Regions from separate parts of the Homo sapiens genome. Here region 1 is linked to region 2. Evidence: fine-mapped expression QTL. A gene starts in region 2. The other region holds a variant in brackets. All regions are shown on one strand. Distances are from middle to middle. Region 1 overlaps ALOX5AP (arachidonate 5-lipoxygenase activating protein). Region 2 holds the start of LINC00398 (long intergenic non-protein coding RNA 398).

The links. PIP is the estimated chance that this variant, and not a neighbour inherited with it, causes the effect.
Region 1: its variant is the best candidate, but not a certain one, in a credible set for the expression of LINC00398 in whole blood (INTERVAL, PIP 0.56).

What each region holds. Positions count from the first base shown.
Region 1 is chr13:30,762,209-30,765,119 of GRCh38, reverse strand. ALOX5AP (arachidonate 5-lipoxygenase activating protein) reads right to left here. Exons shown (of 5, transcript NM_001629.4): 5 at 694-1,176. The coding sequence ends at 1,014. Among named protein-coding and RNA genes, the nearest start is that of ALOX5AP, 28 kb to the right of the region's middle. The variant C/T (reference allele first, on the strand shown) is at 1,617.
Region 2 is chr13:30,801,808-30,804,718 of GRCh38, reverse strand. LINC00398 (long intergenic non-protein coding RNA 398) reads right to left here and starts at 1,513. Exons shown (of 2, transcript NR_047012.1): 1 at 1,127-1,513. RefSeq lists a silencer at 1,619-1,738.

The sequences.
Region 1 (2,911 bases), 40 kb after region 2:
CACTGTGGGAAATGGCTCAACACACATACTTCATTAAATACAGCCAGTTAGCGATTCATAAACTCATTCATTCATTTATTCATTGGTTTGCCAATATTTGGGGGCACGTATGACGGTCCTCGCATTATCTTAGGTTCCCACAGGGAATTACAGAACATTTTAAACTGTATAACATGGAAGTGCTGGGCACGATGCTAGTATATGAAGATACCAACCTAATTCACATGGCTGTGTGAAGAGGGATGGATGTCATAAAAGATCTTCAAGTAATTTTTCCAGAAGCCAGATGTGTATTTTTTTTAATTTGAGATGGAGTCTCACTCTGTTGCCCAAGCTGGAGTGCAGTGGCATGATCTTGGCTCACTGCAACCTCTACCTCCCGGGTTCAAGCAATTCTCCTGCCTCAACCTCCCAAGTAGCTGGGATTATAAGCATCCACCAGCATACCTGGCTAATTTTTGTATTTTTAGTACAGACAGGCTTTCACCATATTGGCCAGGCTGGTCTTAATTCCTGACCTCAAGTGATCCACCTGCCTCGGCCTCCCAAAGTGCTGGGATTACAGGTATGAGCCACCACACCTGGCCAGGATGTGTATTTTTAATATTATCATTTAGTTTGAGGAAAACAAACTAGTCGTTTGTGGGTATAGAGATAAATCCCCCAAAAGCCATTAACAAAACCCCTCAACTATCAGCTTAAAACATGTCTCTGCATTTTATTTTAAGAAAACACAAACCTGGTCACAAAACATCTTCAGAGAACAGGATAAGTGAAGAAACAAACAAAATGCATGGGAATAGCAAATTTGGGGCCACGGTCATGTTCAAGGGGCGGAGCTGACATGACATCATTTTGTTCCCGGAAAAGCAAGGTTAACTCAAGCTGTGAAGCCCAGATGGCCAATAGATTTACAGCCATCTAAAGAAGAGCAGAATGCTCTCAAGAGCTGAATTATGATGACTTGTAGGTATTGATTAGATGAGAACACCAACCCCATATTCAGCAGAGAGTTAGGGAATGAGAAGTAGAGGGGAGATGGTGGTGGAGATCGTCTTTATGTAGTTTTCAAAGTCACTTCCGAAAAAGAAGATGAGGTAATAGTTGAATATGCCAGCAACGGACATGAGGAACAGGAAGAGTATGATGCGTTTCCCAAATATGTAGCCAGGGGTGCTGGAAGAGAAGGAAAAAGAAAACTGTAGATGCAGTGCGAATGACACCAATTTCACACACACAAAAATGTTACCCCTTTTAGATATATGGGGTTTAAATTATAGCTCCCTGGACTCAACAATGCTCCATTTTCCCATTTACTTCATTTGAAGGGTAGAAGTGTCTCAGCTATTACTAGTCATTGAACTTATTTCAAACCCAAGTGAAGAGAGCCTAGACCTCAAAACCCATTACCACGAGGGCTCTGCTGTACCCGCCCCTCTGTGCTCTCATGATTTCCTTAACTCCAGAGCTCCTTGATGGCCTGAAGATGGCAGGTTCTGTTGACCATTGGGCATCCTCACTGAGCATTAGGACCATTAAGACCCTCTCTGCAGCTGCCCATAACGACAGACACGTGTGTAATGCAGGACTGTGTTAGAAGTGAAGTTTAAATGAGC[C/T]GATAAAACCGGTGGAATCTGAAAGGTGCTTCGGCATCTGAGGGCTCATTCTATTCTCCTGAGGCTGACTGGAATAATTCATATCTACATTCATGAGACCTGGGCACCCAGCAATGGGAGACAGGCCCTTGCATTTTTGAGTGGAGGGAGAGACTTGGTTTTTGTTGTTATTGTTGTTGTTTGTTTCTTTGTTTTTGAGATAGAGTCTCACTCTGTAGCCCAAGCTGGAGTGCAGTGGTGCAATCTCGGCTCACTGCAACCTCAGTCTTCTGGGCTTAAGTGATTCTCATGCCTCAGCCTCCCAAGTAGCTGCAACTACAGGCGCACGCCACCACTCCCAGCTAACTTTTTGTATTTTAGTAGAGATGAGGTTTCGTCATGTTAGCCAGGCTGGTCTTGAACTCCTGAGCTCAGGCAATCCACTCACCTCGGCCTCCCAAAGTGCTGGGATTATAGGCGTAAACCACCATGCCTAGCGGAGACATGTTTTAATATACTCTATCCTTCTCTCCAAGGCACTAAATCCTAAACTGCATCCCCCAGTGAGATGTGACCTCCTAATGGCATGCAGAGGCCACCCTGTTTCTGCCCTCCCTCTGCAGAGCCCTCCTCTGACTGCCTCCATGGCTGGCCCATCTGAGAGGTGATAACAGGTTGGGAAAGTCCAAATGACTCAGGAGGATTGTTAGTAAAGATCCTGGGAAGGCATCTTTAGGCAATCAGGACCGCACAACAAGATGAGCCAGCTCAGCCCAACAGCTAACTTCGTACTGCCAAGTGCCGTTTCCTGCCATAATCAGAGAGCAGCATTTGGCATCCACAGGTTTAATATTAGAAATTTTATCAATTTGAAAGGCACCCCATATGCTGATAATATAACTCATAATTTTTCTTTTTCTTTTCTTTTTTTTTTTTTGAGACTGAGTCAAGCTCTATTGCCCAGCTGGAGTGCAGTGGCACGATCTCAGATCACTGCAACCTCTGCCTCCCGGGTTCAAGCGATTCTCCTGCCTCAGCCTCCTGAGTAGCTGGGATTACAGGCACCTGCCACCACACCTGGCTAATTTTTGTATTTTTGGTAGAGATGGTGTTTCACCATGTTGGCCAGGCTGGTCTCGAACTCCTGACCTCAGGTGATCTGCCCACCTCGGCCTCCCAAAGTGCTGGGATTACAGGCGTGAGCCACCACGCCCAGCCAACTCATAATTTTTCTACAGCAGGAGTCTGAAAGTCACTCAGCCATTATGTATCAAGCTCCTTGCTACTCAAAGTATGGTCCGTGGACCAGCAGCATC
Region 2 (2,911 bases):
GCACTCCCCAGGCAGAGGCAGCTCTGTTCTCTGAAGCCCTCATTGTGCCAGAGCCATATGGGGCCACCGCCGGCCACCTGCCTGCAGGGCCTGACATAGCACTTGAGGGAATTGGCTTTTGGTTTTTCCCACAGAATCCATGAACTCATGGGAGGCTGCGCTGTGAGTCAGAAATGAGAATTAACCCTCCTCTCCATTGCCGGAAGCCCTGTTATTATCCCCCAGCCCCATCTTCCTCATTCCCCGACTTCGCCTCCTCCCCACCTCCTTCAGTCAGAAGTCCTCAACCCGACTCCCTGTGAAGGCCCGTGGGATGGCCTTGGGGGACCTGCACTCTAACACTGGACATGTGCAAATCCTGGGAAGATGCTTACAGTTATCAGCATCCTCTCAAAAGAGGTTCATCACCTGAAAAAGTCAAGGACACTGGCTTCTATAGGATGAGCCAACCAGTTAGGTTGCATCCTCCGGGAAAGGCTCCCAGATAGAGTTATGTGTGCAGAGGGGCTATAGCTGAGTAACTCCTGTGGAGGGGCCAGGGGAGAAGTAAGCCAGCCCCACAGAGAGCTCTGGAGCACAGACCACCCAGGAGAGGAATCCCGTGGTGGGCAGAAATGCCAGGCCTTTGGGCCACTGCCTTGCTCTTATGTGGGCCTGGGCCAGCCCAAGGAGGGCACAGTCCTTTTTGAAAGCTGAAGCTTAGTCTGACGAGCTGTGAGTGGACAGCTGTCAGTAGCCACGCTCCTTGTAGCTGGGCCTGGAATCCTTCCTGGAAGGGGAGTGCGGTGCCTGCTGCATGGCCCTGGGCAGCTGCTGTGCACAGCTGCTGGCGGACCCTCACCAAGGTCCATCAGACCTGCCAAGGCAAACCTGAATCCTATATGTGACTCCATCTAAGCCAAGCTGGGACTCTTCCACTCTTAACTTGGAAAATGTGCATTCCCAGCTGCTAGGTCCTGAACTTGACCTGGGGAAGAGAACGACAAGGCCATGCTTGGGCAGGAGAAGCTAGGTGTAGGCAAGGGAATCTTTACCTTATGAATGGGTTGTATACATGTTGCTTGTTGTTTAGAGAGTGGAATACATTTTGTCCTGGAAATCCTACTATAAATGGGGGGATGCGTACCTGGGCCTTCTTGCAAAAGCCTGTTAAATTCCTAATGATGTTGAAATGGTGGGAAGGGTCATCCAGGGAGGACCTCCACGCCCGCCCATCTCCTCTGGGTTGCCCGGGCAATCCTGCAGGAGCCGAGGCTGGACGCAGCTGACCCCAACAGACAGGAGAAACAAGCCAGCACCACCGGAGAGAACCAGGCTGAAAGGGTGACCCAGGGCTTCCGTGGCCTAGAATGAGAGAGACATCGCATGGCGCAAGGTTCCAAGTAGGGTTCGCGGCGGGGAGGGCCCCTGCCGCAAAGGGACTCAGTGTTGTGCGAGGGAGGTGAAGTCGCTTCTTGATCAGCCGTATTTCTTGCCTACACTTGACACCGTCACCAGCCCAGGCGCCTTTCCGGTCACCCTCACGGAAAGGCTCATCCACGCTGGAAGGAGGGAACCTCCTCGTTAACCTCTAGCATGCCGGTGCCTGCCACCCCAGGGCGCGGGAGCCCGCAGGAGCAGGCGTGTGGACGTCCTGAGAGCTGCCACTAGATGGCGCGTCTGCCCTGCCTACTCAGGAGCCCCGCTCAGGGCACCGGGTGCGGGAGCCCGGCTAATTGCCCTCTAATGAGAAGGCTGCTCCCAAAGTGCCCTCCTCGCAGGGAAAGCCCCAGGCTCCTATCAAAGGGAATGGCTTATTTATCCTCTAACGTGAAGAAACTTCCACACAGCATCAATTAAACACATTAAATGTGACCAGAGTGAGAAAACATCTAAAGGATAGAATATTGAATTGTTGCCACTGACAAATATCAAACCACCCATTCTGGTCTCGGTGGCGTGTACAGTTGACCTTGAACAACACAGGTTTGAACTGTGTGTGTCCAGTTAGAGGTGGACCTTCTTCTGCCTCTGCCACCCCTGAGAAGCGGGACCAACCCCTCCTCTTCCTCCTCCTCCTCAGCCTACTCAGAAGACCACAAGGCTGAAGGCCTTCATGGCGATCCACTTCCACTTAATGAGTAGTCGATATACTTTCTCTTCCTTATGATTTTTTAAATAACAATTTCTTTTCTTTAGCTTACTTTATTGTAAGAATATAGTATATAATACATTAACATACAAAATATGTGTGAATCGACTATTTATGTTATCAATAAGGCTTCCAGTCAACAGTAGGCTATTAGTAGTTCAGTTTGGGGGAGTCAAAAGTTGTATATAGATTTTAAACTGTGTGGGGATTGGCACCCCTAAAGCCTTCATTACTCAAGAGTCAACTGTAGGTGGGCCCTGGGAAGGTTCTCAATTTTTTTTTTTTTTTGAGACAGAGTCTGTTTCTGTCACACAGGCTGGAGTGCGGTGGTATGATTTCAGTTCACTGCAACTTCCGCTTCCAGGATTCAAGCAATTCTCCTGCCTCAGCCTCCGAGAAGCTGTGACTACAGGTGCGTGCCACCATGCCCGGATAATTTTTGTATTTTTAGTGGAGACGGGGTTTCGCCATGTTGGCCAGGCTCGTCTCAAACTCCTGACCTCAAGTGATTCACCAGCCTTGGCCTCCCAAAGTGCTGGAATTAAAGGTGTGAGCCACTGTGCCTGGACGGTTCTCAAATTTTCTGAGATCAGATGGAGTCTGCCCCTCCACCTGGCAGGCTGAAGGCTGGGGCTTGCAGAGATGTGGTGTCTGTTACCCCAGACACTGCAGGTGACCTTGCCTCTTACTAACTTTTCTTATCAGTACCATTTGGACCCTCACACTCATGAGGATGTGGGTGATAATGTGGAGGTTAAATAATATGGTCACTGATGATAT